2 separate regions of the Homo sapiens genome follow, and region 1 is linked to region 2. Evidence: fine-mapped expression QTL. A gene starts in region 2. The other region holds a variant in brackets. All regions are shown on one strand. Distances are between the middles of the regions.

Evidence for each region.
Region 1: its variant is fine-mapped to the expression of SMC3 in whole blood (INTERVAL, PIP above 0.99).

The regions. Positions count from the first base shown.
Region 1 is chr10:110,151,006-110,161,228 of GRCh38, forward strand. It overlaps LOC105378479 (a long non-coding RNA gene), which reads right to left and starts at 975. Exons shown (of 3, transcript NR_164121.1): 1 at 283-975. RefSeq lists enhancers at 133-1,127, 1,128-2,120. The variant C/CAA (reference allele first, on the strand shown) is at 5,491.
Region 2 is chr10:110,563,196-110,573,418 of GRCh38, forward strand. SMC3 (structural maintenance of chromosomes 3) reads left to right here and starts at 4,500. Exons shown (of 29, transcript NM_005445.4): 1 at 4,500-4,636; 2 at 5,743-5,818. The coding sequence starts at 4,622. LOC105378483 (a long non-coding RNA gene) reads right to left here and starts at 4,113. Exons shown (of 2, transcript XR_946318.2): 1 at 3,838-4,113; 2 at 1,306-1,818. RefSeq lists enhancers at 2,803-3,505, 4,320-4,369, 4,380-4,479 and a silencer at 4,820-5,109.

The sequences.
Region 1 (10,223 bases), 410 kb before region 2:
CAGGACTCAAAGGCTGGTGTCTCTGACTGCTGAGCCCTTTGAGCCACTGTGTCTCTCCTGAGAAAAGTTGCCTTTCAGAGCTTGCGACCCCCAATCTGTGGCTCTTCTGTGCCTCTGTTGTGCTCCACCCGCTCCCTGGGGATGGTCAGAGCCTGGGCCCTCTCCCCCGGGAAGCTGTTAGGACAGCTCCTGTGATCCCTGCAGCAAAACTATTTGTTTTCCAGAACAAATAGGAGCCTGAAATCAGAGTGCCTGTGTCCCTCAAGAAGGCGGATTCCCCACCTGGTGGGGAGGCGCTGGGCTGTGATGGAGGCTGAGGAGGAAGAAGAACCATGGAGCCAGAAGTTTTGCCAAGGACCAGCCGAGTGTTTTCCCTGAGCTCAGTGTTCTCAGCTCTAGCGTAGGGATGAGCCCCTCCTCTTCCTGGAGCTGAGGCTGGGATGAAGGGAGTGTGGGTCGGTGCCTGGTGCTGGAGGGGTCCACGGCAGGCATCCAGATGCTGTCACTGGAGGGCACGAGAGGCCCCTCCTGGGACACACCCTCTGTCCCCAGTCCCCCTGCACCACCTCTCACCCTGTCTCCTTCCTCTTCCACTTTCATTCTTTCTTTCCCTCTTCCTTCTACATGGATGGAGGCCTCAGAGTGGCCAGAGGGATGTGCTGAGCCTGGCCCTCCCATGGGGAGGAGCCAGTAGACACACCTGCCCGTGGCCTGGAACACTTCCAGCTGGAAAGGCGAACCGAGCCAGGCCCTGAGTCAGTCAGGCAGCCTCACCCCACGCCTCTGGCCCCTGCCCACCCCTCACTCATAGGCACCTGCTTGCTGCCGTCCCTCCTCACCCCGACCTCTGCCCACTCCAGCTGTGGCCTGGGAGGGGTCTGCAGTGAGGGAGAAAATGTTGACCACAGAGATCATGCCACGGCCACTTTTCACTGGAGGGGAAACTGCAGACTGCCTTCCTCCTCCTGCCCTCTCCCCTAACCCAGAGGGAAAGAGGCGTGGGGAGGGGGCTGAGGGATTACCACGCTTGGCTGGCTGGCTTTCCATGTGCAGAGTATTGAGGCCGCCTAATTGACAGATAGTAAACACGGATAAAGACTTTGGGAGAGAGAAGCAGGGGGTCGTTGGGACAAGGCAGGCTGAGGCATTGGGAGGGTGGGGGGCTGAGAGTCTTGGGAGAAGACCAGATGGCTCCCTGCCATGTCCCCATCTGGGCCTCTGCTAACTTTAAGCCAAGTGAACAGGGCCTGGTGGACAAAGGCCAGCGTGCACATGAAGGGGGCCATTAGAGGTGTGGCCTGGGGGAGAGGAGAACCCAGGGGTCCCCCCTTCTGTGTGAGGCCTGGCAGCTTGAGAGTCTGGGCCTGGCGTCCCCTCCCCCAGGCACCAGGGGAGGAATCCAAGCTCCCAACTTGTTCAGAGGGATCTCGCACCATCTCCACACCACCTCTCAGCTCGCCTGTGAGGGCGGCCCTGGGACAGCTCCACGCAGTGTGAATGTTAAGTTTTCCTGCAAGGAGCTGGGGTCTGTAACAGCCCTACTGGTGGCAGAGCTCAGGGAGAGGCTCAAGGCTGCTTGGGAGAGCCTGGTTGTGGCCACCAGCCCTGGGAACACCCTCCACTCCCTTCCAGCGTGGCCCCAAACCCAGAGGATCCAGGCTTCCAGCACGGGATGGGGTTCTGAATGGGGAAGGAGGAAGGAAGCTGCCTGCTCTCTGCCTGGGCCCCTGTACTACCCTCACCCCAGCATGGTCACTCCATTCAACCTACTTCTGTTTCCAAGGCGTCTTACTGTGCCCAGCACCCTGAGGAAGAGAGAGGATCAGAGACATCCCAACCTCCTGTTGGACAAATTCTCTTACTTCCACATTTCTGCCTTGGCTCCTTAGAGAACTCTTCCAAGGCCTCAGCTGGATCCCCTGAGCTCTGACCTGCCAATCACACCAAGGCTGCTCGCCACGAAAAAGAACTGACTTTGCCTCCTCTCCCTCCCTGTCCAAATCCATCCCAGGCTTTCCTGTGCAGCTAAGTCCTTCCCAGAGAGACATCAAGATGAAAGAAAGCAGACAGACCTGGATTCAAACTTCATCTCTACTCTTTATGACTTTGGGCAAGTTGCTTACTCTCTTTGAGTCTCGGTTTCTTGATCTGTAACTGGGAAAGCAGGTGCATCCTTGCCGAGGTGTTGTGAGGATTTAATAAGGTGCGACTTGGAGAGCACCCTGCCCTCCCTCCCTGGCAGGTGTACAGAGAGCTTGTCAGACCATAACTCAAAGGCCACGTGGCCACCATTGCCCATTGACACTACCTCCGAAACCTCTCTCCCGTTCAGCTCCTCTTTCTATCCCCATTGTCACAGCCCTAGTCTAAGCCCCTGGTTTCCCACCTGAATTCATTTAAACAACGAATTCATTGACCCTCTTACTGGTCTTCCCAGTACCCCCTGTCTCAACCCTCAGTCCAGCCTCCCGCTGCTGGAGAACGAGCTCTTTAAAATGCAAATCATGGTCTGTCACTCACCGCCTAGTTGCCTATGACTTGTGAGAGATGAGATCCAACTTCCTTTGCAGGGAGAGAGTTCATTGGTGCCCTGGCCTTATCTGCCTCCTGGCTTGGTTGCTACCCTCCCACCAGTCGCCTCATCTGCCACTTGCATTCACAATACTAGGCCATTGCACATGTTCTTTTCTCCGCTTGACAGGTCCTTACCCTGCTCAACTGAGAGCCAACTTCTCATCCTCCAGGGAGGAAGGAGACACGCTATGTGGCAGGCACTGTGCTAAGCATTTTATTTGCATTATTTCATGAGACAGATACTATTATCCCCACTTAGTGGGTGATAAAACCAAGTCTCAAGTGGTTAAACAGAATTCAATCCTAGATCAATTATGACCCTAAATCCATGTTTTCCTGTTACATCTATTTCCCAGCTCAAATGCCTCCTCCTTCATGAAACCTTCCCCCACTACGAGTGTGGAGGCCGGATCTGGCTTGGTGTTTTAGGGGACAGAGTACATAAATGAATTTCAGAGATGCAAAAAGTTTCTGTTTAGGGGAAGTGCATGATCAGTCCAACAAAGAGATTCAGCATTTCCTGTATTCAAGGAACATGTCTGGGTGCTGCACAGAATGAAACATTAATTGGTGGGCAATAACGTGTTGGCAAAGACATGGAGAAATCAGAGTCTTCATACATTGCTAATGGGAATGTAAAATGGTACAACCATATTTGAAAAACAGTTTGGCAGTTCCTCAAAAAGTTAAACATAGAGTTACCAATTCTACTACTCAGTATATACCCAAGAGAAATGAAAACATATGTCCACGTAAAAATTTTCACACAAATGTTCATAGCAGCATTATTCATAATAGCCAAAATCTGGAAACAACTCAAATGTCCATCAACTGATGAATGAATAAACAAAACATGGCATATGCATTCAAGGAATATTATTTAGCCATGTAAAGGGATGAAGTACTGATACATGCTACAACATGGTGAACCGTGAAAACACTGTGCTAAGTGAAAGAAGACACCTATTGTAACATTTCATTTGTATGTGAATGTCTTGAGATGTCAAGAATAGTAAAAATCAGCCAGGTGCCATGGCTCATGCCTGTTATCCCAGCAGTTTGGGAGGCTGAGGCAGGTGGATCACTTGAGGTCAGGAGTTCGAGATGAGACAAGCCTGGCCAACAGGGTGAAACCCTGTCTCTACTAAATATACAAAAAAATTAGTTGGACGTGGTGGCAGGTGCCCGTAATCCCAGCTACTTGGGAGGCTGAGGCAGAATTGCTGGAACCCAGGAGGCAGAGGTTGCAGTGAGCTGAGATCGCACCACTACACCTCCCGCCTGGGAGACAGAGCAAGACTCCGTCTCAAAAGAAAAAAAAATAGTAAAAATCCATAAACACATAAAGAAGATTAACGGTTCCCCTGGTGTCAGGGTGTGGGGTAAATGCAGTGACAGAAATGGCTGTGGGGTTTCTTTTGGGTGTGATGAAAATGTTCTAAAATCAGATAATGGTAATGGTTTCAGAACTCTGTAGATACAGTAAAAACCACTGAATTGTACACCCTAAAATGGTGAATTTTATGGTATGCGAATTATATCCCAACAAAGCTGTTTTTAAAAAATTGGGCCAGGAATTAAAGACCAGCCTGGGCAACATAGTGAGACTTCCTTTCTACAAAATTAAAAAAAAAAATTGGCCAGGCATGGTGGTATATGGCTGTAGCCCCAGTTACTTGGGAGGCTGAGGTGGGAGAATCGCTTGAGCCCAAGGGGTCAAGGCTGTAGTGAGCCATGTTTGCACCACTGCACTCCAGCCTCGGTGACAGAGTGAGATCCTGTCTCAAAAAAATGACTATAACCTAAATGTCCAACAATAGGGGCTTATTGAGAAAACTGTGATACAACTGGTAGACAACTCTGCAGTGATTTTCAATGATGCAAAATGTTGGTATGAAAATGTTTTAAGGTTATCGAGTAGTTAAAAAAGGAGTAATAGAACAATGAGAACACATGGACACAGGAAGGGGAACATCACACTCTGGGGACTGTTGTGGGGTGGGGGGAGGGGGGAGGGATAGCATTAGGAGATATACCTAACGCTAAAGGACGAGTTAATGGGTGCAGCACACCAGCATGGCACATGTATACATATGTAACTAACCTGCACATTGTGCACATGTACCCTAAAACTTAAAGTATAATAATAATAAAAAGACAAAAATAAATAAATGAAAAAATTATAGCAAATCTTTACTTTTTTAAAAAAAAAAAAAGGAGTAATAGACTCAAAATAGAGTATTGGATTCCATTCTGTTAGGTGTGTGTGCGTGCGTGTGTGTGTGTGTGTGTGTGTGTGTGTGTCTGCATAAGAAAATGGAAAGATCACCAAAATGTTACAGGTCCCAGCTGGGCATCAGGGATACATTTTATCCTCTCTGCAGGGGAGGTGGTGGGGAAGCCATCTGAATTTTCTAATATTTCCACATAGTAAACATCTATTAGTTGTGAAATTTCTAAAAAGAGTGATTAAGAGATCATCCTTGCCCCTCCAAGGGTTCACAATCTAGCAAGGAAGATGAATACAAAAATTGCAGAGGGAGGCCAAGAGACCGGGAGAGAGTGGAGTTCAGTTTTACTGAAGGGCACCAGGGAGCTCTCCTGGGAGGGATGGAGTCTGAAATTATGGCTGAGGCTGGCCGTGGTGCCTCACACCTGTAATCCCAGGACTTTGGGAGGTCGAGGCGGGCAGATCACCCGAGCCCAGGAGTTCAAGACCAGTCTGGGCAATATGGCGAAACCCCGTCTCTACCAAAGAAATACAAAAATTAGCCAGGTGTGGTGGCACACGCCTGTAGTCCCAGCTGCTAGGGAGGCTGAGGTAGGAGGATCACTTGAACCTGGGAGGTCAAGGCTGCATCAAGCTATGATCACACCACTGCACTTTAGCCTGGGTGACAGAGAGAGACTCTGTCT[C/CAA]AAAAAAAAAAAAAAAAAAAAAAAAGTATGGCTGGAAGAAGCATTTGGGGGCACCACCAGAAAACTGAGCCTACAACCCTCAATTTCCAAGAGACAAATGGGAAGGGGCAAATGGCATTTCTCATCAACTGCTTCCAGAGATTTTGTGTCCTGTGTGGCCCAGTCCTCACCTCATGTGATTGAATAATTCTGGATAGAGATTGTGCCTTCCGTACCCCTACAACCATTGGTGGGAGATCGAGTACATTTATCAAAAACCTATGACCAGGCAGTCATCAAACTCGCCTGGCAGCATTTGAATGGGGTCTGGACCAGAGTCCCCTGGGGCAGCCACTGGGTGGAGGGTGCAAGTGTGGATTCAGAGAGGCAGGACACGGACCCTCAGTCCCCTGCGGCTTCCCACGTCCACCCCTTTTTCTTTCTGGTTAAATCCTGTTTCAGCTCAAACTGGGGAGATGCCTAGTGGGGTGTGAGCAGAAGTCAGAGACTGTGAAATAAAACAAGAAAGATCAACAGGAAGCAGGCAGCTAAATCATGAGGAGAACGACGTCGAGAGGGCGTGGGCTGGGTTTGGTCTTATTTTTAGTGGTCATGGTGGTGACAGTGGTGGGGAATTGAGGCCAGAAGCAGGAAGCTGGGTTTCCCAGCCTCAGCTTTTGATGGTTTCCGGGTCCCCGTGGGCCAGTGAAGAAGCAGCCCACCCCTGTGATAAACCAGTTTGTTAAGTTGCCTTTGTCTTTGAGAGATTTTTATACGTTTTTTGTGAAACCGCTGCTGCTGCGAGGGGCCCCTCAAATCACGAATAAAGCAGAGGCTATTAACCAGGGTGTGAACACTGCCCTGCGCATGCTCTGTGAGTGAGCCCCACACACGCACAGGGTGGGCACTCACAACACGGGGAAGGGAGCTTTTGACAGGATCCAAAGGGCCCCACAATTTATCCCAAATTAAGAATCACTAATAAGGCCGGGTGCGGTGGCTCACGCCTGTAATCCCAGCACTTTGGGAGGCTGAGGTGGAGAATCACTTGAGCCAGGAGTTTGAGACCAGCCTGGGCAACATAGCAAGAACCCCATCTCTATAAAAAACACAAAAAATTAGCTAGTCATGTTGGTGCACGCCTGTAGTCCCAGCTACTTGGGAGGCTGAGGTGGGAGAATCGTCTGTGCCTCAGAGGTCAAGGCTGTAGTGAGCCAAGATCGTGCCACTGCACTCCAGCCTGGGTGCTTCCTGGTTAATAGATTCCGTGTCTGGTAGTGATCCATTTCCTGGCTAATAGATGGCCATCTTTTCGCTCTGTCCTCACATGGTGGAAGGGGCAAGGACTCTCTCTCTGGCCTCTTTTATAAGGGTCGTAATCCCACCATGAGGCTTATGCCCTAATGACCCACATCACCTCCCAAAGGCCTCACCTCCTAATACTATCACATTGGGGATTAGGCTTCAACACAAAAATTGGGGGCAGGAGCACACACATTTAAACCACATCAGGTTGTCAAAAATAAAGTTTGAATCTCAGCACTGCGACTGATTTGCTGTGGGATTTTAGGCAAGTGACTTAATGTCTCTGAGCCTTAGTTTCCTCATCTGAAAGTGCATCTAAATGAGATATGGCACCTGAAAGCATCTAAGGGATATTTGCTGTATCTGAGTCTCTCTGGAGAGGGTGGGTGGAAAGGCATTCTGGGGCAAGCAAGGCCAGCGTGCAAATTAGCACCCTGACTGGCAGAAGGCATAGGGGACAGAAGAAGCTCGTGATGCAGCAGGAGTTGGGTCAGCTGGGGGCTTGCCAATTGTCCAAAGGCCCTGCCACAAAGAACCACTTCTTTTTCCTCTGTTTGAGCCCCCTCCCCTCCTCCTCCCTAATACTTCCGCCGTAACCTGTCTGCACACCCCACCAGGCATCTTGTTTTTACCTGGTTGGCCTTTCCAGCTACTGCGTATTTCATTTTGTGTCCTGACTCCTCCAGAATCCTGGGAGTGCCTCAAGGCTAGTGAAATGGCCAGGAAGGAAAAACAGCAGAGAGGAGTCAAACAGACCATGCTGCAAGCCTAACGCGACTGAGTCGTGAGACCTTGGGCAGCTTAATTCCTCTGAGACTGAGTTTTTTCATCTGCAAAGAAGGAATCATTAACAGTACCTTTCTCATAGGGTGGTGTTTTAAAGATTAAAGGAGGTATTGCATGTAGAGACATAGATGGAAGGAAGTAAGCTCTCAGCGAGTCTTACTTGTTAGTTTTCTTCTTACCCCCACCATGTGGAATGCAGCACTGAGCAGGGCCTCAGCTTCCCAAACTCAGCCAGGTGTCATTGCAGTCCTTCCCACAGACTTGTTTTTCTGGCAGACACTTACATGACTGGCTTATTGCAAATACATGCACTATACTCCAAAATGCCCTTTTAGATGACTGATCCCAAACCCGGTGGCATGTCAGAATCATCTGGGTAAGCTTTCTTAAAAAAAAAAAAATACGGATTCCCAGATACCACCTTACCTACCAAATCAATCTCTGGAAATGGGGCCTGGGAATCTGTACTTTTAAAATGCCCCTCAGGTGGCTCAGATCCAGCCAGCAGATCACCATTTTAAAGGAAAACAGCCTTCTCTTCTTCTAAAGCTTCTTGTTGGCAAGTTTTGAGCCATCTTGTTCCATTATTCAGAACACCCCACAACGGACAATGACAAGATGTGTTTATTTTTTCATTCATTGAACACATGTTCATTAAGTGCCTCTGGTCTAGAATAACAGCTAAAAGTTTAAGCTCTGGGTCGGTTCATACCCACTGGGATGGCTATAAACAAAAAGACAATAACAAGTGTTGACAAGGGTGTGGAGAAACTGGAGCCCCCATACACTGCTGGTGGGAAGGTAACATGGTGCAGCCACTTTGGAAAACAGTCTAGCAGTTCCTTTAAAAAACATACGTTCTAGGTTCCTCTATCATCCCGCAGTTCCACTCCCAGCTGTATACCCAAGAGAGACGAAAACGTATGTCCATCCAAAAACTTGCTCATGCTTGGTCATAGCAGCATTATTCATAATACTGAAAACGTGAAAACAACCCAGTTCATCAGTTGACAAAGAGATAAAGTTGATCTGTCCATACAATGGACTATTTTTTTGGAAATGGAAGTGCTGATAGATGCTACAACAGGGAGGAACCTTGCAATCATTATGCTAAATGAAACAAGCCAGCCACAAAGGACCACATATCATATAATCCTATTTATATGAAATGCCCAGAATAGGCGAATCTATACAGACGGAAGTAGATAGGACTGAGAAGTTGGGGGAAATGGGGAGTAACTGCTAACGGGTATGGGCTCTCTTTCTGGGATGATGAAATGTTCTAAGATTGTTTGTGGTGATGGTTGCAGGACTCTGTTAATGCACTAAAAACTGTCTGATTGTATACTTTAAATGGGTGAATTGTATGGTATGTGAATTAGATCTCCATAAATTTATTAAAAGTAGAAAGTTCAGGCTCTGAAGTCTGACTTCCCAGGTTGGAATCCTAGCCCTGCTATTTCACTAGTTGGGCAATTTTATGCAAGTAATATAGCCTCTCCATGCCTTAGCTTCCTCATTGTAAGATTAATTTAGTTAATATGTGAAAAAGTTTAGAAGAGTCCCTAGCCCATGGGAAGTGTTCAGTAAACATTAGCTCTTCTTGTTTTGAGCCAGCCATGTTCTAGATCTGTGCTGTCCAATACAGTAGAGAATAGCACTTAAAATGTAGCTACTCCCCACCGCCACCCCCCTCCAAAAATGTAGCTACTCTGAATTAAGATATGCTAAAAGGACCAGGCACAGTGGCTCACGCCTATAATCCCAGCACTTTGAGAGGCTGAGGCGGGTGGATCAATTGAGGTCAGGAGTTTGAGATATGCTGAAAGTATAAAACACACATCAGATTTCAAAGGCTTAGTATGCAAAGTAAAAATCTCGTTAATATTTTATAATAATTACATGCTGAAATATTTTTGATATATTGGGTTAAATAAAATTTATTTGTAAAATTAATTTTACCATTTACTCTTATGTTTTAAAATTGTGGCTACTAGAAAACTTAAAATTGCATAGTTAACAACTAACATCATAATTAATGGTAAAAGACTGAAAGCTTTCCCCTAAGATCATGAACAAGACAAGGGTGTCTCCTCTTCTTGTCAGTTCTATTCAACATTGTGCTGGAGGGGCTAGCCAGGGAAATTAGGCAAGAAAGTGAAATAAAAGGCCAGTTTGGAAAAGAAGAAGTAAAACTATCTCTGTTGACAAATAATCTTTTATATAGAAAATACTAAGATATCTACCCCCAAGCACCAGGCTATTAGAGCTAATAAACAAGTTCAGTAATATTTCAAAATATAAGATCTGCATATAAAAATTAATTCTATATCCATATGCTAGCAATTAAAGTTTCAAAAATAGAATTTAGAAAACTATTTCACATCTAGTAGTATCAAAAGGAATAAAGTACCTAAGCATAAATTTAACAGAAGTACAAGATGTGTACATTCAAAACTGTAAAATATTGTTGAAGGAAATTGAAGAAGACCTAAATAAATGGAACAACAACACATAGTTGTGAATTGGAAGGCTTAATATTGCTAAGATGGCAATATTCCCAAAATTGATATAACAGATTCAATGCAATCCTATCAAAATTCCAACTGACTTCTTTGTAGAAGTTGATAAGCTGATCAAATGAATGTGGAATGCTTGTAAAA
Region 2 (10,223 bases):
GTAACTGCCCTTTTGAGTCACATTTCTTTGTGAACTCCCACATGTACGTATGTGATTAAAATCTGCTTTTTCTTTTGCTAGTGTGTCATCCAGGCTGGAGTGCAGTGGCACAGTCATGATTCACTGCAGCCTTGAACGCCTAGGTTCAAGCCGTCCTCCCACCTCAGCCTCCGGAGTAGCTGGGACTACAGGCGATCGCCGCCAAGCCTTAAGCTCCTGTCCTCTTATGTTCATGGATTCCCCCCACTCCACACCTCACCCATAAACATAAAAGGGCAGAGGAAAAGTTTCTTTCTCCTCAACGCTATTAGGACACATTCATGCTAGAGGTAATCAGTAAATATCTGTTCAATGAATGAATGAATAATGGGGGGTGAGGTGGTCCCAGAGTGTTTGGTCAGTTTTCTCCTGGCATTTTGATCTTTCAGTTTAGCTCTTTGCTGTCTTTTCCCAGGGATTTGCTGACTACAAGTTTGGCTATGAACTAATAACAAAAATAGCTAACACTATGTCTTGTGCCAGTTATTTTAAATAAATCATCCTAATTTACCTGCAAGGAAATTTCCATAGATATCATTAAAATCTTTACTTATAGATGAGGAAACAGGCTTCAGGAGGTTAATCTTCCCCAGGTCATACATCAGCAAGTGATAGAGCCAGGATGTGACCCGGCTCTCCCAAAGTCTGACCACTGACTGTTGGGGCAAATGTCTATCTGCATCTTTGCTGCCTGGAAAGGCAGAGAATATTCCCATTTTATCTACAGAAAGTCACATGGTAAAATGACATGTCCCAACTCATGGAATTTGTCAAATGGAGTCAGCATAAGACCCTTGGGTTTCCAACCCAATGCAAAATAAGTACCCTTGCTCCTCACAGCATCAGTGAGAAAAATCTAAGACAGACCATACACATGATAGCACTTTGAAGCTGGGTGAGGAGCTACACAAATATACGGGATTATGATTGTTGTGTGTCTGTGCTTTGAGCATTAGAGACTCCCTTCTTAAAGAGACTTATGATTAGTGTCTCTTTTTCCCCTCCTCCCACTCCAGTGTGTCTAAGTGATCATGCTGAATCAATCTGAGGTGGGGTTGGGGGAGAGAAATAAAAACACTGAGGAGGTGATGCCATGTGTTGTTAATGGGATGTTTAGATGTAAAATGATGTTACCAAGCAAAAAGGGCTCAGTGCTTGATGTGCTAGAAGCCAATACTATGATACCGGGTTTTTGAGAAAAGAAAAGCTTTTTATTGCAAGTTGACTAAAAAGACAGGAATCCAGCTCGAATCTGTCTCTCTGTGCTAGGTTTAAAGCAGTAATTTTATTAGAAAAAAATTCATGGGTGGATTCTGGGATTAGTAGGTGATTGGCGGAAGGAAAGCGGAGGTCTAGAAAGTGCTGAGGCATGCACAGTTACCTCTTCATGCCACCACATGGATCATATGTCAAACTCGGGGAGTTTGTATGAACCATGCACTGGAAATTCAGGCTGTGATGTTAGCAAACCATTCTGCACAAACTCCAGTTAGTCATGTTGATTGCAAGCAATTTCAGTCAGTTTTTTAATATTACAAGTGGAGGGAGTTTCAGCAAGTTGTTTCTTTTCTCATCTGCTATCCTGCAAACTCAAGAATTTGTTAGTCACAGACTTCTTTAACTCTTTGGGGCACTGTTTCAAGGCTGCAGTTCTCCGTTGTTTAGCTATGAGCTAGTAGGCACTGTGCGGCTGGCATTCTGCTTTATGGTGGCAATTTCTTTCAGGAATGTCCCTTTGCTTCCAGATAGTTCATAGGTTTGAATAACTATTTATCCTGGCTAAAGGAGATCAATATGTTCGACTCCTACGTACTTACCAGAAGAGAATGATGCTCCTAAGGGGGATGAAAGGTGGGTGGAATGGGGACATAGGGAGCTTTTAAACACCAGTAGCTGGCATATGTAAGCCCTGCACGGTGGTAAGTACTTTGCTTCTGTGCATTTTTCACTCATAAATATATACTGAGTACTTTCTGTGAATTAGTTACTAAGTAACAGCAGGAACAAAATGAAGTCCCTTCTCTCTTGGATTTATATTCGTGCAGAGATAGACAATAAATACATAAATATAAATAAAAGCATTACATTCTCAAAATCACCTTTTGATTATTTTAGGTTTTTCGCTGATCTTTTTTTCTGCCTATATAAATTATATAAGCTAATTGTATAAGCTTCATTTAATATGGAAAAGCCTAAGGAAGAAAGTAAAACTCCCATCACTGTGAAAGCCATTCAAATGTTTTAGTCACCATCTTTTCATATTTTGCCTACATATGTATAAACAATTTTAGGTAGATAGGATTATCTTATACATCCTGTTTGTAATTCTAAATATGATGGAGTTTTATCATCTTCATTTTATAGACTAGGAAGTGGAGGCTTAGAATTTTTTTTTTTGAGACAGAGTCTCGCTCCATCACCCAGGCTGGAGTGCAGTGTCAGTCTCGGCTCACTGCAACCTCTGCCTCCTGGGTTCAAGTGATTCTCCTGCCTCAGCTTCCTGAGTAGCTGAGATTACAGGCGTCTGCACCACGCCCAGCTAATTTTTGTATTTTTAGTAGAGACGGAGTTTTGCCATGCTGAGCCTCCACTTCCTAGTCTATAAAATGAAGATGATAAAACTCCATCATATTTAGAATTACAAACAGGATGTATAAGATAATCCTATCTGCCACGTTGGCCAGACTGTTCTGAAACTCCTGACCTCAAGTGATCCACCCACCTGGGCCTCCCAAAGTGCTGGGATTACAGGCGTGAACCACCATACCTGTCCTAAGCTTTAAATAATACAACTAAAATCTAGAAGTAAAATGTTTAGATTGAGTGCAGTGGCTCATTCCTGTAATCCCAGCATTTAGGGAGGCAGAGGTGGGAGGATCGCTTGAGGCCAGAAGTTAGAGACCAGCCTGGGCAACATAAGGAGACCTGGTCTCTACAAAAACAAAAAAAAGCTGGGCTTGGTGGCCACAGCCTGTAGGCTGAGGTGGGAGGATGGCTTGAACCCAGGAGTTTGAGGCTGCAGTGAACCATGACCGAGCCACTATGCTCCAGCTCCACCCTGGGTGACAGAGCAAGATCCTGTCAAAAAAAAAAAAAAAAGTTAGAAATAAAGAAAAGAAAATGCTTACATATTTATTTAATTTATTTTGAGACAGTCTCGCTCTGTTGCCCAGGCTGGAGTGCAGTGGCGCGATCTTGGCTCACTGCAACCTCTGCCTCCTGGATTCAAGCAATTCTCCTGCCCCAGCCTCCCGACTAACTGGGATTACAGGCACCCGCCACGACGCCCAGCTAATTTTTGTATTTCGAGTAGAGACGGGGGTTTCGCCATGCTGGCCAGGCTGGTCTTGAACTCGTGACCTCAGGTGATCCTCCCCCCTCAGCCTCCCAAAGTGCTGGGATTACACGCTTGAGCCACTCGACCAGGCCTATTTATTTTTTTAAACCAAGGGCTGGATAGGATTTGATCCGGGCTCCAGATAAAGGACTCCTAGGGAGATACCCTGGTTAGCAGAGGCAGTTAGGAGGCTACTAAAAATAGTTCAATCTAGAAATAATTAGGGCCAGAATTGTCTCCAGCAGCGGGCGGGGGTGGGGCTGGGGATGATTTGGGTAGTTATTTTGTTCTCTTCCCAGCAAGTAATTTCAGAGCAGCCCAGAGATTCATTTTCTAAACAAATGATGTTTTTCTCCCAAGACTGACAAGGATCAGACAGACCTAGGGTTGCCACTAGCACCTAGTATCTTTCAGGCTGTTTTCTTTTGTTTTTAAAGTGGATTAAAAGCTTTCAGCCTTACCTAAATCTTTGTTGCAATTGTACAGATCTGCCTAGATTTATAGCAGATGGTAGAACAGAAACAGTTCCCGACGGAATTAATCATCACATTATTAAAACAAATTTTCGAGCATTGACAAATCCCTTCGGGGTTGTCCTCCGAGTGGGCAATTCGTAACCAGCTTGGGGCGTGCTAAGATTGTAAACGTTCCTATGGAGAGCGATAACAAAGGGGCAGCAGTGACTCCGCACACAGAATTCCAAGAATCACCAGCATTCCATGTGTTCCAAGGCTAGCACAGTGCGCGCGAGGTCCGCTTTTTTAAACAGCGCGGAATCACGTGGCCGACAGCCCGCGGCGCTACTGGCCCTCGGAGTCTCCCTCTTGGCTTTGGCGCGGAACCTTTCCCCCTTTGTGGACGCGACCATTGGCCCCGCGCTCGGAGGTGGTACGGACCAACCCTACGGTCATAGATTTTCCGAGTGAAGCTTTTGACTAAGTCTCAGGAAAGCGTTAGCTACAGAATTCTAGATTCAAAAGAAATCCACCAAAAAACGCTGTGGAGGACTGGTTTTGCCTAAAAGAAAGAGCAGACCTGAACTTGACTCCTCCTACGCCCTGTGAAGGCTGCAAGGTGGTTCCGTCCGAGGCGCGGACTCCGCCCCCACGAGCGCCGCCATTTTGTTTGGCTGAGGGGAGCGAGCGGCGCTTTGGGGGAGGGGTCGCGTAGGCGCCTCACCTGACCCTGCGGCCGTGCGGTTGCTGCTCCGGGGCAGGTCTCCTTCCAGGCCAGGGGCCCGGAATCATGTACATAAAGCAGGTAAGGCCTTCGCGTCCCTCCACCCCGTCATGGGCCGGTAAGGGCCGCTCCTTGAGGCGGGAGTGTTGCGGCGCCACCCGCAGCCTCTCCCCTGTCTCCACAGGCTGGACCAGGGCTGGGCGGGGACTGTGGGGGAGGAGGGAGACCCGGGTCCCGCTAGTGCCCCGGCTGCGGGGTCGCGGAGAATTGGGGCACTCCTTTGCAGCCCCGGCCTCCCTGCTGGCGCTTGTCTGGGAGAGGCAGGATCTCCGAGAGGTGTGGAAGGGCCGGCGGGCGGGCCGCTGGGAGGGACTGGGCCTTCCTGGGTGGCCCCAGAGCTGGCGGGGGGCACCCCGCCGGGGCGGCCGCGGGCGGGAAGGGCTGTGTGGTCCTGCAGGGGTGGCCTCACACGGCCCATGTGCCTGGGATGTGTGGAAAGGTGGCTTCCCCGGCCCGGGGGCGGCCCTGGGGGCATTGGCTGGGGTGTCGTCACCTGTCACTGCGGGGAGCCGTTCTTCTCCCCAGTTAACCCGCGAAGTGAGCGGGACCCTCCTGCTTGCAGGATACGGAGCGCCGCCTCCCTCGGTTGTTTACTTCTGTCAAAATGGTCTTCCCGCGCGGGACTCCACCACAAAGATGAGCCCAGGCACACGGCCTTGGAGACGGTTTTCTGTTGGGTCTGTCGGGCTCTGAGCACTCCTTCTTTGGAACGTGGGTTCTTTCAGGCTGGCCGGCGTGAGTGACTGAAAGCAGCACTCGGTGGTCTTGGAGTCAGGAGAGCTGGGGCCCGTCGGCCTGCTTTTATAGACTTGCTATTGTACTGCAGCGTTTAGGGTTCAGTTAAGCTCACACAGTGTTTTTGATTTTGAAAGGTCCTTAACAGGTTGACAGCATAACTCCTAAAAAAAAATAAAACCCAGCAGCATTGCCTTGGCAAAGATTACCGATAAAAGTACCTTTTTTTTTTTTTAGCAGATTTTTAATCACCACTTTCCAAAATGAATTTTTCTTATATGAAATTTCGAGTTTTCTATATTGCATTAAATGAAAAACAAGAAAGAAATGCAAGAGAAAAATGTTAATTTTTTTTGTGGGGTGGGTTCTCAAAAATGTTTTTTATTTACTAGGTGATTATCCAGGGTTTTCGAAGTTACAGAGATCAAACAATTGTAGATCCCTTCAGTTCAAAACATAATGTGATTGGTAAGTGTTCTTGGTTTACTCGGTCATATTTATAGTCTATACAGATAATGTAAATTCTGTCCATTTCTATATTGGCTTAAGGAGACAGGAATTGTCTTTGAATATTAAGTTATATTTTTCTGCGTGAAATAACTTTTCTGTCTTATTGCACTGATGAATTGCTTATTTTTATAAACTTAAAATGTTTGGATAAGACACTCATAAGTTATCCATTTTTTATCTAGGTAGCCTTGTATGTGTGTGTAAGAGTGTTTTAAAGCATTTCCGCTCTTCTGTTCTTGTTATATATCCTAGTGAAAATGCTGACTGTTGCCTTATTTCAGAGACAGACAATTTTTATTCACAAAGTAGATGCCAGGATTCCCCCCCCACCCCGGCAGTCAGTGTCTCTAAGGACAGACCATGTAGCTAGATTGGAAGAGCATAAACTTTGGAGCATAACAGAATGGGGTTCAAATCCCAGTTATAGGGGGGTGGGGGCCTGGGGGAGGGATAGCATTAGGAGAAATACCTAATGTAAATGTCGAGTTGATGGGTGCAGCAAACCAACATGGCACATGTATACCTATGTAACAAACCTGCATGTTGTGCACATGTATCCTAGTATAACAACAACGAAAAAAAAAATCCCAGTTGTGGCACACGTTCTTTTTCACTTTCTGAGAAGCTTCAGTTTTCTCATTTGTAAAGTGGAGATGATACCTGTCTCATAGGGCTGTTGAGAAGATTAAATGAGAAACCTTATGTAAGTGTGAAGATAAAGAGCTAATGGTGATTGCCATTAACAATATGTAGTCATTATAGATTGCTCAGATTGTAGTGTGCATTTTGCTGATACAGCTAACAAAAATGTTTTCTGACACTCTGCTGAGTATTTTACAGGATAGATGAAAGGAGTGCTTCTGGACACCAGAAACACAGACTGCTGTTGACACAGTTTTGCTGTACAGAGTCCAAACTAAGTGGTGTATTAGTTTGCTAAGGCAGCCATAACAAAATACCATAGACTGGTGGCTTAAACAAGATATTTTTTTTCTCATAGTCTGGAGGTCAGACATCCATGATCAGGATACCTGCATGGTTAGGTTCTCGTGAGGCTCTCTTCCTGGCTTATGGACAGCTGCTGTCTTGCTGTGTGCTCACATGGCCCCATCCTCATGTCCTCATTTAACCATAATCATCTTCCAGGGGTCCCCATGTCCAAATACTATCACATTCGGGATTAAGGTGTCAGTTGTTTCAGGGTGTCAGTTCAATTCAGTCTGTGGTGCGTGGGTGAGATTCACATTACTAATGTTTCCAGAAGACCTTTAGAGAATCATACTTCATTTTGTATAAAATGATAAAATTGAAGGCAGGTTTTTTTGCCCTCGATTTATCAATAGCAGCCTTGTAGTTGGGAATAAAGAAGGCATACTTTTTTTTTCCCTGCTTGTGCTCTGTCTACTGAAGTCATTTAATTGAATTGACATGCCATAGGGTGGCTTAATTGTACTGGGGTTTTGCTTACATATAAGTACTTTCTGATTTTTTTCATCAATCAGAAAATCTTTAGAAATGTAGAAAAATAAGAATTATTAGATTTCTGTTTTCTTTAACTTGCACCTTAAAATAAGTACCTTAATATTTCATTTGTGTGATTTTATAAATGATCTGTAACTTACTAGCTAGAATGATTACATTTTGTCTATAAGGTCCATCAAATACCATTGTTTTAGCTGTTATCAGTTAGTTGTGTTACCTCTGTGATTGCAGCATTAGATTTGTTAATAGTCACTGTTACAAAGGAAAATGGTTTTGTTTAACTAAAACAAATGAACCCAAGATAACAGTACTGATTAAACATATTTTAAAACCAGACACGTTGTAAGACATAATGTAAGAAAGACCAAAAGTAGTTAGGTACTGAGATTTGCCTTAAAAATATCTGGTGAAAGCATACCACTTTGATTGATGAATGATGTTGACTATTAAAAAATATCTCTTGTACTGATGTTGGGTATATGCATCAAACATATACGTTTTTAGGGATTTTTTTCCCCCTAACCTTTAACAAAAGAAATACATGTTATAGAACATTATGGAAAAGCTAAAAGGAAGAAAATTAAGATAAACTATAATCCTTTTACTCAGAGATAACCATTCTTTGTTTTTTACTGCACACCATGATTCTTCAGAGATAACCATTCTTAATAATAACAGTCTATACTTGTGATTAGTCCTGGTTTCCTAGAAAACAGCACAGACAGGATTAGCTGCTAAGGCTTTGATGGGAGGTGCAGTTTGAGGGCAAGAATGAAGAGAAAAGCTGGTCATAGATTTCTAAAGAAGAGACAGGTGGTTTGCAGTCATGTTAAATAACTCACAGACTTTGTGGACCCACCATACCTTAGAAAGGTCAGATGATAGAGGAATGGATTTGGATTCTGACAAGGATTTGTTTGCAGGCACCTGTCTTTCATTGGTCAAAGTTTTCTACATCTGGCATTGATGCCTCCAAGCTTTTGGATTGTGGTGCTCTGGGAACTAACACCCGGAAGTAGTCAGGGAGTTATAGCCTCCTTTCCATGTTCACAATTCAGGAGTACCTGAATGTACTCCCAAGGTAGCTTGAATCTACCAGAGGTATTAGGAGACTGAGCTTTTCCATTGATTGGCAGCCAAGGCCTGGGTTGAGAAAGGTGAATCTGGGGCCACATATAAACTGTGTTTACCTCAGTACGTTTTTAGTCTTTGTATACATCTTTTTAATATATATTTAAATAAAAATGGGTTCATTTTTAAATAAAAATGGGTTCATTTTTAAATAAAAAATGGGTTCATCATATAACTTACTGGTAATCTGTTATTCTCCTTCAGGATAAATCTTGAAATATCTTTATTAAATATTCAGCATCCTTTAAAATTGCTATATAGTGTTCCACTCTAGCAGTAATTCTTAAAAGGAAATTCTTAAAATTTCAGTTATTTATAGATGGATTGTGGTTTGAAATATTTATTCATTTAATGATAAATTGTCATCTTAAACTTTTATTTAGAAATAGTTTCAAATTTACAGAAAAATTTCCCCAATAAGAACTGTTCAGAGACTACTCATAAACCCTTTACCTAGATTCACCTGTTGTTAACATTTTCCCCACTTGCTGTATCATTTCCACTTTTTACACACCTTTTTCCTTAAAGTTATTTACACCATGGTCCTTTACCTCTGACTTTAATGTGTACTTTCTAAGAGGAGGGATGTTCTCTTTCATAATCACAGTACAATTTACAACTTAAGTAAATTTAATACATAGTAATCTGTCCATTTTCCAGTTATGTTGACTGACCCAGAAGTGTTCTTGATAGCATTTTTCCCCCTCCAGTACAGGATCTAATTTAGGAGCAGGTATTGCATAGTTGTCATGCTTCTTTAGTCTCCTTTAATCTGGATCATTTCCACAGCCTTCCTTTGTCTTTTATAACATTGTTATTTTTGAGAATTAAGACATAAGTGATGTTGTGTCCCTCTCAGGATATCACATCTGGAGGCACATGAGGTCTGTCTGACTCTTATTGATGATATTACTTTTGATCACCCAGTCAAGGTCTAATGTTTCCACTGTGTAGGTATTATTTTTTCCCTTGCAGCTAATAAGTAATATAGGCAGATGCTTTTGGACCATGTAAATCTTGTGCTCCTTTTCAAACTTTGTGCCTGCATTTACCATCTGTTGATGACCCTTGCCTTTATTCTGACGGTCACAAAATGATTTTTCATTTCCAGCACTCCTTTCACATTTACAACTTGGCATTTGGTAATTCTCCTCCTTCCTTACCTACTTATTTATCTTTTTATTATTGGTATGGATGCATGGATTATTCCCCCCACCAATAATTTATAATTTATTTGGCCATTTTGATGCTCAGATTACCCCTAGTTTTAGCTACTGAAAGGCCCCTTCAAGCTGGCTCCTGTGTCTGTCATATGCGTTTTTTTAAAAAGTACATCCTTTCTGGCATGACATGAATGATCTTTTTGAGATTTACTTTGCATTAAAGGTGGTAACTTTGTGGTTAATTTGCTCAGGATATTTCTGGCTCAAGAGTGAGAAGACTGACATAGTTATTTATGAGTCTTAACACTGAAAATTTCACTAAACACACTTAAAAGGATTTGATACCCTTTTACGTATTGAATTGCTTATATTTGAATTTTGTTAGTCAAAAAGTACCTTAAAATTATTTATATTTTTGTGGTTCTGTGAGACTACACATGATAATATAGGGTTGATTTTAAACATGAGAACACTTTAAGGATTTAAAATGATTATTTTAGAACGTTAGCAATATATGAATCTTTAAATTGTTAAACATATATAGTTAAAATAGAATTATATATCCATTGTAATATGATATAAGAGCC